2 linked regions of the Homo sapiens genome follow. The protein of the gene in region 1 interacts with the protein of each later gene in a pairwise test. Each region holds a gene or a part of one and is shown on either strand. Other genes may lie near its edges.

Region 1 (3,895 bases):
ACTGAGGACAGGACCTCTTCCTAACCTTGGTGGGGTGCAGCATAGGGGGTGCCTCGCTGGGCTGAACCCCCTCTTCAAGAGGGCAGCCCAGAGCCCCTAAGCCCCCAACCAATGAGAGGCAGGATCCCTGCGTCGTGGCTGCCGAGGCCTGGGGTGATGCCCTAATGGTGCCTTGTGGAAAAGCAGGGAGTGAGACCCTAGCTTCTGGGTCCCAGGGCTCCAGTTGAGTTGGGGCTCTGCCATACGATTATAACCATCATCGAAGCCCCTCATTTTCAGTATTTTAGTGGAGGAGCTGCAAGGCTGCCCCAGGCCAGGTCTGTGTCCCCTGAGCCAGGTTCCCCCAGCATCACTGCCTAGTCTGTGACCTTGGTGAGTCACTTTTCCTTTTTGAGCACCAGTTTCCTGATTTTTTTTTTTTTTTGAGAGTGTTTCTCTTCTTGCCCAAGCTGGAGTGCAATGGCGTGATCTCGGCTCACTACAACCTCCGCCTCCAGGGTTCAAGCAATTCTCCTGCCTCAGCTTCCCAAGTAACTGGGATTACAGGCATGCAGGCATGCAACACCATGCCTGGCTAATTTTTTGTATTTTTAGTAAAGATGGAGTTTCACCATGTTGGCCAGGCTGATCTCAAACTCCTGACCTTGTGATCCACCTGCCTTGGCCTCCTAAAGTGCTGGGATTACAGGCGTGAGCCACCATGCCCGGCCTCCCAGTTTCCTGATTTGTAAAGCACAGATAAAAATGAAAATATCAACAACCTCACAGAGCAGTTCAAGATAGTATCTAGCGAGTGAGTGCTCAGTCATAGTAGTGGGTGCTCAGTCAGTAGTCAATGTCATCACTGCTGGCATTCCCATCACTCCCCCAATGCCCACATGGCGGCTCAGGCACCCTCCACTCCTCCCTGATGGGGTTACTTCCCCCTTCTCTTGTCCCTGCCCCTGCACCTGAGGAGTATGAGGCACCAGGCCACTGTAGCAGGTCCACAGGCCATCAATGCTTTAATTTTGTCAGAGGCAGGCACTGAGCAGCCCTGCTGAGGTCTCCCCAGCTACTGTGCCACAACCAGCTCGGAGCTGCCACTCTAACAGCAGAGTGGAGAGCTGGGGTCAGGGCCATAGCCCCCGGGCTGAGGAGGCCTTCTTGCAGGACCCCAACCACAGAACGAGTGGTCTTCACAACACCTGCGGCCTGCGGACTCCGTTTTTTGCCAAGGAGTCTGAGATGCTTCATGCCCATCAGACCATGGGGTGGCCTTCATGGGAGACCTGCAGGGCCAGGCTGGCCAGACTTGGCCAGAAAGACTTCCCAGGGAAGATGCTTGGCTCTCTGCTCCAAGGTGGGCCATGGTATAGGGCCCTCGAAGGGCTTGTGGCTGGGGTGATCCCAGGGGGCATTGCTCAAAGTGCACAGGAGGTGGCAGCAGGGTCAGGCGAGTTCCTGTTCCAGGGACATCAGGAGGGAGGGTAGAAGCCTAGGGAGTGTGCGAGGCTGCTGGGATGAGGGAGCTCAGGGGCTACCAGCTAACCAGCCTCAGCTCAATGGTTTCTCCATCCTTGGGTCTGTAGTCAGCAATACCTGCAGAAACAGATTGAGCAAGGAGGGGCGAATTGGGCAGAATATCGCACCCCGCAACCTCATCTTCCAGACCCCCCACCCTGAGGCTAGAGTCTGTAAGAATCCACCTGGGGCTTGGTGGTGGGAAGCTGGAACCTCCCTAAAGCCTGCTCAAAGACTCTGAACTCAGCTTCCCACAGGGTTCCTGAGGCCATGACCTCATCTGGTAATAAAAACACCTGACAGGCAGGGCCACTGTCTTTGTAATACCCTAGGGACCATCAGGAAGAGAAACTTGCGCAGTGCAGTCTGGAGAGAGAACCAGGACCACGCAGAAGTCTCCCAGGAGTCAGCTTTCACTCACTACACAGAATCCAGGCTCTAGGAGGACGCCTGGATTCAAGCCCCAGCTCTGTCATTCATTACTGCTGTGACTCTGGACAAGTTATTTAACCTCTGAGTGAGTGTCGCTGCTCTTGTTGGTGATGTGGGAATGCAGCCTGCAGGGGAACTGAAAGGGCCCTTTGAGATAGCCAGGTGTCAGAAATGTTTCCTTTCAATGGAGGTGCTATGGTCTAAAATGTCTGTGTCCCCCCAAAATGTATATGTTAAAACCTAACCCCAAAGGTGATGGTATCAGGAGGCCTTAGGGCCTTTGGGAGATGATTAGGTCATGAGAGTAGAGCCTCATCAATGGGATAGGAAAGTGCCATTATAGGCCGAGCAGGGTGGCTCATACCTAGAATCCCAGCACTTTGGGAGGCCAAGGCAGGCAGATCACTTGAGTTCAGAAGTTCGAGACCAGCCTATGCAACATGGTGAAACCACATTTCTACTAAAAATACAAAAAATTAGCTGGGCTTTGTGCCATGGGCCTATGGTCACACGTACTCAGGAGGCTGAGGTGGGAGGATCGCTTAAGCCAGGGAGGCAGAGGTTGCAGTGAGCTGAGATTGTGATACTGCACTCAGCGTGGGTGACAGAGTGAGACCCCCATCTCAAAAAAAAAAATTTTTAAGTACCATTATAAAAGAGGTTCCTTCAGCAGGCAAGGGCCAGGAAAATATTTTTTTTTTTTAAATTAAAAAACAAGGCCCCAGAAAGTTGCCATGTTCCTTCCACCATGTGAGAACACAGCCAGCAGGTAACACCAGAAAGTGGGCCCCCATCAGACACTGAATCTGTCAGTGTCCTGATCTGGGACTGCCCACCCAACCTCCAGAACTGTTAAGAAATACATTTCTGTTATTTTATTTCATTTTGAGATGGAGTTTCACTCTTGTTGCCCAGGCTGAAATGCAATGGCGTGATCTCAGCTCACGGCAACCTCCGCCTCCTGGGTTCAAGCGATTCTCCTGCCTCAGCCTCCTGAGTAGCTGGGATTACAGGTGCCCGCCACCACCCCCAGCTAATTTTTTGTATTTTTAGTAGAGACAGGGTTTCACCATGTTGGTCAGGCTAGTCTTGAACTACTGATCTCAGGTGATCCACCTGCCTTGGCCTCCCAAAGTGCTGGAATTATAGGCATGAGCCACCGCACCCGGCCTCATTTCTGCTGTTTATAAGCCACCCAGTTTATGGTATTTTGTAATAGCAGCTTCAATGGACTAAGACAAAAGAGAACTCAAATTATAACTCCCATCCACTTTCCACCCCAAGGAAGATAGAGGAGTGATTTATGCAACTGGTTGATTTGGGAAGAATAAACTAGGCATGTGTAGCCTGGGCGCTATTTTTCTCCTGGGAGCGGGCTTCCTTCTAGACTCAAGGGCAGAGGGGGAAGGAGATAGAGGCTACAACTGCCCAGGTCTGCTTCCTGGCTGGGTCCACCTAGCTCTCACCCTCCTGTCTTTATCAGTAATAGAACTGGCCAGACTTGGGGTCTCCATCTGTAGCTCCTATTTTTTATTCCTCAATTTATTCAGAATGAGGGCAAGAAAAGAATGCTTTTTTGTGGGCTCCCTCAGAAAGTCCCACCTTCTCTATAAGCACTCGCCACAATGCTTGACACATGGTAAGTGCCCCATAAAAGTTCTTCAGGGGTGGAGTATCAAAGCAACTTAAATAACAAGAGTAGGAACAGATGACTTTTAAGGGTCTGTTTGCAGGCCAGGCGTGGTGGCTCACGCCTGTAATCCCAGCACTTTGGGAGGCTGAGGCAGGCAGATCACTTGAGGTCAGGAGTTTGAGACCAGCCTGGCCAACATGGTGAAACCCCGTCTCTACTAAAAATACAAAAATAACTGGGCATGGTGGCACACACCTGTAATCCCAGCTACTTGGGAGGCTGAGGCAGGAGAATTGCTTGAGCTCAGAAGGCAGAGGCTGCAGTGAG
Region 2 (7,297 bases), on another chromosome or scaffold:
CCCCCAGGAAAGCAGCTGGAAAACAAGAGCATGTGAAGGAAGCGCAGCAGCTCCTCGCCAGCCAGACAGCCAGCCCCGCACCGCAGGAGTCGACATGCACGGCAGCCTAGACGCCATCAGTTAAACTTATATGTAGGCTTGTTGAGGAAAACGACTTTCAAACACAAGGCAAAAGAAAAACATGAAACCAAGGGTTCCAACATTCATCATCCAGTTTCAGAGACACCCTTGAAGGAATGCTACAGCCTCTTTCTTACCCATTCAAACCAGTCGCTCTGCTGCATACCCACATCACAGGAGGCCCTCAGCCCCGACACACAGGCTCACTCAGCCCGGGGACATCAGCACCTGTGCCAGCTCCGCAAGGTATCCACCATGCGGCCAGAACTGAGGCCCAGCAATAGCTGAAATGTCCTTTAAATTAACATGTACAACACACAACCCCCAAGAGCTGACATCCCCAAAGCCCCACCACAAATAGCTGACTCCTACTTATACCTGCAGGAGCAGGTAGTGACCTCTGCAATTCTAAACCGTCCACTTTGGGCAAAATTCATCAAGCTATGGATATGAAAAAAGGCCCCCAAGGTAATACTCATAAGTCTCCTGTATGACTTTTAAAGCAATTTCTTCTGAAAGTAAATGTAGTGTAGAACAGGCTTTCACAAATACAAACATGAATGTTAGGAAAAAGTCTGGAAAAAATGCAAGAGTACATGTTGTATAAAAACCAAATGCTTATAGCATATCTGTAAAAATTTAACAGGCCTCTTATCATTCCTATCAGTAGCTCCTACAATAATTTTCTAATAGATGGCGGTATGGAATACAGCAAGCTCTGGTATGAATGGTAAGAGCGTTTCTGCACCAAGCCTCATTCCAACTAGACAGGCTATTTATTTATGGCTAAACATGACATTGGATTCTGGGACTGAGGCAAATTTTACTTCTTTTTTTTTTTTTTTTTTTTTAAAGACAGAGTTTCGCTCTTGTTGCCCAGGCTGTAGTGCAATGGCGCGATATTGGCTCACTGCAACCCCTGCCTCCCAGGTTCAAGTGATTCTCCTGCCTCACCAAGTAGCTGTGATTACAGGTACCCGCCACCATGGCCAGCTAATTTTTTCTATTTTTAGTAGAGCCAGGGTTTCACCATGTTGGCCAGGCTGGTCTCGAACTCCTGATCTCAGGTGATCCACCTGTCTTGGCCTCCCGTGCTGGGATTATAGGCATGAGCCACCACGTCCGGCCAAATTTTACTTCTTAAAAGTGCTTTTCTCTCAGTGATATCAAGGTCTTCTGTCTACTATTATAACCATAAGCTCTTTAGCGTTAAGAGGAAAATGTTTGATAAATGTAATTAACTGGATGAATGTCAGTGTATTTAAATGTAAATATACTTAAATGTAATTACCTGGATGAAACAGGCACACACGAAGAAAAAAAAACTCGGCAAGGATGGGTATCATTCTGACCTCTGCGCCTTACTGAAGCAGTCCTATCCCAAACACAAAATTCCCCTGCTTAAGGAAAGGTCCACTGAGGTTGACACTGGTCAGAGGTGGCAGAGGCTCCCACCCTCACAGAGAGGAGGAGCTCCAGCCTCATTGCAGGAGGCCCAGGGAGAAGTCCTGAGAACAGCCCTGAGAGAAGGTGCTCTGCAATGGGAAACGGAAGTGGAAACAGAATTTTCCCATAAGGACCTGTAAGGCATGTTTTGCTTCACTGATAGGCTGTTCCTACATTAAAATAATAATTCAGAGATTTTTAATAAGGAATTCAAATAACAGATGATGAGCTTTATTTTTTCCTGAATGTCTGAAATAGAAAAAAGCCTAGGTGTCAATATTCTAAAGACTGACCTTTGCATTTTCCTGACATGTTGATGAAGTATTCATTCTGCCGCTTCCATTTAGTAGTAATTTATCTCCCATCCCAAAGTTCCTGAGTACAAAGACTATATACGAACTAAATTTCATTTGGAAAACTACAAACTCAAAGGTGAGCTGATAAAAAGAAACATATATTTATTTTTGCAATTATTTTCTATTTTATCTAATTGTCAAATTCTTTAATACCTCCATAAACTAGACAGTATAGATCCTTTCTAATTAACATCACCTATTAAAACTGAACTCTCAGTAAGTTAAGAGAATATTTTTACTAGCAACTCAAATGAATATTCTGAAGAGAAAAGAATTGTTCACTGCATAAATCACAATAGCAAAGAAAGGAAAAATGGCTTGCAAAACAGGAAAGGTACTGCCTTATTAACCTGGGAAATCCATTTCATATCTAACCCGTCTACTTTTTAATTCTCTTTTGGAAAGGATATGATTCATAGTCCAGCGTTTGAGTGAGCACTCCAGTCAGAACGAACTCTGCATTGTGAACATCTGAACAGGGTGGAAACAGACACTTTAGTTAGAGATCCACTGCTGTGCGTGCACACATACTCACACAGGTAAGCGGGGAAACGTACCTATGCCTCTGGCAAAATATTCTCGGCATAAATGAAGGTCATTTTCACAGGATATTAAAATTATTTCCGACAAACTCTAAGGAAAAGAAAATGAGTTTCTCAGTGACCGAACGCTGAATGTGATACAGGGCAATGACGGACTCGCTGGCGGACTCCACTCTACCCACCGAGTTCTGCTTGTGCTCCATGAGCTTCCGGAAAGATGGCTGCTTGGATAACACCTTTCCTCCTGCACACTCTACGATTGCCTTCATAGTGGAAAGACTTGGGCAGATTCCAGGTGTGATGTAAAAATATTTTGCCTAAAATTAAATGAAAATATATGTATTATGTTCTTAAAATGCTTTAATTTTTAGAGTACATAATTCTCATAGATTCTGCCCTGAGATTTTTGACAAAATTTCAAATTTTATGACATTATGAAGGTACTATTCTCCTACTAGCACTCAATCTGAAGTGGAAGAGGAATCCAGCTATGTAAATTTGGAATGTAAGCATTTTCACATGTTAAGTATGCCTGAAGATGATTTAAAGTAACCAGAACTTAAGTCCCTAAAACAAAGTGTTTTGTGAATAAGCAAGAATATTACAAATATTTTTCACAATTTCTATACAATTTTAAATCAGCATTATATTTCACCACACTTATCTGCCCAGCAACAGCCTCTGGCATAGCATGCTGCCTGGCTTATATCCCTTTTCTTTATTTTCTCCATATTATTTGAACTCAGAGCAGGAAATGATATTGATGCTTAAGATTTAATTATCTAACAAGATTGCTCCTGAGGATACCACAAAATACTATTCTGTCTGAAACTGCAAATAATTTCTAATTCCTGTTGACTCCTTAAGAAGGTTAAAGAACCGATTATCTTTATTGATTTACTTAGTTCTTTGGTACAAAAAAAATTCCTAGCTGTTCTAACACTTATCTAACATTTAAAAATCTTTTAGTACTGAATTATATCTATGCACACACTGAATATTTTCCCAAGTATCTTCTCCAGCTGAATATACATTTACTGACAATAGTACGAAGTAAGCGATGTCCTCTAAAGATTTATTAAAAGCAGAAAAATGAACATGCCTCTTAACCAATTACTCAAAAACCTATTCTTTGAATAACTTATTTCTCATAGATGTATTTATTAAATTTGTGTACTTATTTTTAAACATTATAGTAAAGAAAAGTTCTCTAGAGATGTGCTGTGGTTCACAGGAGGAAGACCTCCAGTGGCAATGTCCAAGAAGGAAGCCAAGAGGTAAATGGGATGCAGGGTGAGCCCAGCTCCCCTGGAGGCGCACTTCCCACCAAATCACCTGGTAGTTCCCTTGAGCAGGTCCGTGTGTTATGCTTACTTGGACTGATTTACTTTTCCCTTAAAGTGTACCTTAAAGAGTGGAGAAACGTGTGCCCGTTTTAAGGATTCTTCCAAGCTGAAAGAGAAAAGTACTTCTGCCTCAGCATCTCGGAGAATGTAGTTCTGCTCATCTGGAAAACAGAACAGCACATACTCTGAAAAGTGTGGACACGTGAAGTGTGGCAAGTGTGACCCACAAAATTCTCGCCCATATTCAGGTACATAATATTACAGCTACATTTACCTGTACAGCCTTCGGATATTTAAATGTCACCATTATATTTCATTTACTTCCCTCTAAAAACAGCCAGACCAAAAAGACAGACAGGTATTTTTTCTCCTAGATCAGTGGTAATTAACCATTTGGGGTCATAAACTCTTGAAAAAAACGGGCTGGGTGTGGTGGTTCATGCCTGTAATTCCAGCACTTTGGGAAGCCGGGGAAGGAAAGCTGCTTGATGCCAGGAGTTCGAGAACAGCCTGGGCAACACAGTGAGACTTCATCTCTACAGAAAAATTTTAAAATCAGCTTGGCATGGTGGCATGTGCCTGTAGTCCCAGCTACTCGGGGGACTGAAGTGGGAGGATCGCTTGAGTCTGGGAAGTTCGAGGCTGTGGTGAGCCATCATTGCACCACAGCACCCCAGCCTGGGCAACAAAGTGAGATCTGGTCTCAAAATAATAGTAATTTTTTTTTTTTTAACAACAAAAATGTAAAAAAAGAAAAAAAAAATTACTGAAAAATATGAACCCTCTTCCCATAGCTGCTCCTCCCCTCTTTACCCCCCGACTATTTTAGGAAGTTCACCAACTTTCCAAGCCCGCAGATCTCAGGTTAAAATCTCCAGTCCTAGAAAGACAAGCTTCAAATAATCCCATCCAAGTGTATATTATATATATATATGTTATATATATACACTAACTCCTCAAGGACTTGTAGGACATTGGAGTCATTTGGCTCATAATCAATTATGTGAATTACCAAACTTTAAAGATTTACCAAACACACATTCAAGTATATAAAAGTATACAGCAATTTATAAAGGATAGTTTTATCAATTTTTAAAGACTTCTGACAATTATTAATAATTGACAGATTTTCAGTTTTCATAGCAACATTTTAAGAAATGTGTCAAAAGGTAAAGATCACAAAATGTTTCAATCTTCCTATAAATATGCCTCATATTCAGAAAACCATTTCTCCTCCGCCGCCATTTCCTACCAACCATACAGCATAATAAGGCAGCTCAAACCCAATAATATATACATCAAAAGCAGAAAACAAGGAAAAGTGATTTGGGATTGGCAAACTGGGGTTGACAAGATGATACATATTTTAGGATTTGTGGGCTATGTATTATTTCTCCTGCATATTCCTCTTCTCTTTTTTAAGCAATATTTAAAAAATGTAAAAACCATTTTCAGCGTATGGACCAGTTTGCTGACTGCTGGGCAGGAGCAACCACATCATGACAGAAATGCAGGGATCTGTTCACCAACGGCCAGAAATACAAAATCAATCCCTGAGTCAACCAGCAGATAGAAAGGCTGCTTTTTAGGTGAAAGGAGAAAAAGAATGTCTAAAATTTGGAAAAACAAAAAATGATGAATTAAAAAAGGAACAAAAAAAGTACTGTTACACATGAGATGGTATATTTGAAGTGTTACTTTCAAAGCTGATATGCCTTCTGAAGAACTTGTGTGAGATCACCAAGAATAGTTAATGTTTATGATAGAGAAAACACCACCGGGCGCGGTGGCTCACGCCTATAATCCCAGCACTTTGGGAGGCCGAGGTGGGCGGATCTCTTGAGGTCAGGAGTTCAAGACCAGCCTGGCCAACATGGTGAAACCCTGTCTCTACTAAAAAATACAAAAAAATTTAGCCAGGCGTCGTCGTGGTGGGCGCCTGCAGTCCCAGCTACTAGGGAGGCTGAGGCAGGAGAATGGCTTGAACCCAGGAGGCAGAGGTTGTAGTAAGCCAATGGCACCACTCTACTCCAGCCTGAGCAACAGACTGGGTGAGACTCTGTCTTAAAAAGAAAAGAAAGTAATATTGAAAAATACAGTAATACAGCTAAGACGATCCTGTCACAGATGAGACATTGAGATTTTGGTTTTTTCAAACAGGGTTATGTTACCTTAGTAGTAGCAATGTAAAGACTCAACCTGAACATTAAACTTTTCATGGAAGTACAAAAGAAATGAGTATCCTAGAAATTGATTATAATATTGATGTCTCAAATTTTATGTAAGTTACACATAAATATAAAATCCCAAAAACATGCACCTACCAAAACAGGTGGAGAAAAGAGTGTTTTCAACAAATGATGCTGGAACAACTGCACATCCATATGCAATAAAAGGAAGCTGGACACAGACTTTACCCTCTTTTAAAAAAAACTGACCCAAAAATGGAACACAGACCTAAATGTAAAATGCAAAACTATGAAACTCCTAGAAGATAACACAGGAGAGAATCTAAGGGACCTTGAGTTTGGCAATGACTTTTTAGATACAACACCAAAGACACAATCCATGAAAGAAATAAGAAGTAACCTGGACCTCACCTATTAGAATGGCCAAAACCCAGAGCACTAACACCAGCATATGCTGAGGAGGATGTGGAGCAACAGGAGCTCCCATTCACTGCAGGTGGGAATGCAAAATGGCACAGGCACTTCAGAAGACAGCCTGGCGGTTTCTTACAAAGCTAAACATACTCTTACCATATGATCAAGCAATTGCAACCTTGTTGATTTACCAAAAGGAGTTGAAAACTTACGTCCACACTAAAACCTGTACATGGATGTTTTAGCAGCTTTACTGCTAACTGCGAAAATTTAGAATCAGCTAAGATGTCCTTGTGTAGGTGAGGGGCTGAACAGATACATTCTGACAATGGAATATTATTTAGTGCTAAAAAGAAATGCTTTATGAAGCCATGAAAAGACATGGAGGAAGCTGGGACGTATATTGCTAAGCAAAGGAAGCAAATCTGAAAATCCTATATACTGTATGATTCCCAATATGTAACATTCTGGAAAGGGCAAGACTATAGAAAGAATAAAAGATCAGTGGTTGCCAGGGGTCAGCAGGCAGGAAGGAATGAGTGGGTGGAGCACAGAGGATTTTCAGGGCAGTGGAACAACTCCATATGACGCTGTAAAGCAAAATCATGTCCTTACACATTTGTTAAAACCCAATGACTGTTCAAGGCCAAGAGTGAGCCCTAATGTAACTATGGACTTTGGGTGACTGGCCAAGAGTGAGCCCTAATGTAACTATGGACTCTGGGTGACTAGCCAAGAGTGAGCCCTAATGTAACTATGGACTTCAGGTGACTGGCCAACAGGGAGCCCTAATGTAACTATGGACTTCGGGTGACTGGCCAAGAGTAAGCCCTAATGTAACTATGGACTTTGGGTGACTATGACCCAAATGTCAATGTAGCTTC

The links.
Region 2: the proteins of TCN2 (region 1) and PAXIP1 interact in a two-hybrid assay, tested with the Homo sapiens proteins (one study listed by BioGRID and IntAct).

Annotation. Positions count from the first base shown.
Region 1 is NC_000022.11:30,624,146-30,628,040, reverse strand, and holds the end of TCN2 (transcobalamin-2 isoform 1 precursor), read right to left. Parts: intron 1,582-3,895; coding exon 1,520-1,581; 3' UTR 770-1,519; downstream 1-769. UniProt on the Homo sapiens protein: Primary vitamin B12-binding and transport protein. Delivers cobalamin to cells.
Region 2 is NC_000007.14:154,944,033-154,951,329, forward strand, and holds part of PAXIP1 (PAX-interacting protein 1), read right to left. Parts: intron 5,459-7,297; exon of another isoform or gene 5,266-5,458; intron 4,059-5,265; exon of another isoform or gene 3,972-4,058; coding exon 3,871-3,971; exon of another isoform or gene 3,866-3,870; intron 3,742-3,865; exon of another isoform or gene 3,661-3,741; intron 2,821-3,660; exon of another isoform or gene 2,782-2,820; coding exon 2,647-2,781; exon of another isoform or gene 2,561-2,646; intron 2,556-2,560; coding exon 2,480-2,555; intron 2,462-2,479; exon of another isoform or gene 2,394-2,461; coding exon 2,333-2,393; exon of another isoform or gene 2,328-2,332; intron 589-2,327; exon of another isoform or gene 133-588; coding exon 117-132; 3' UTR 1-116.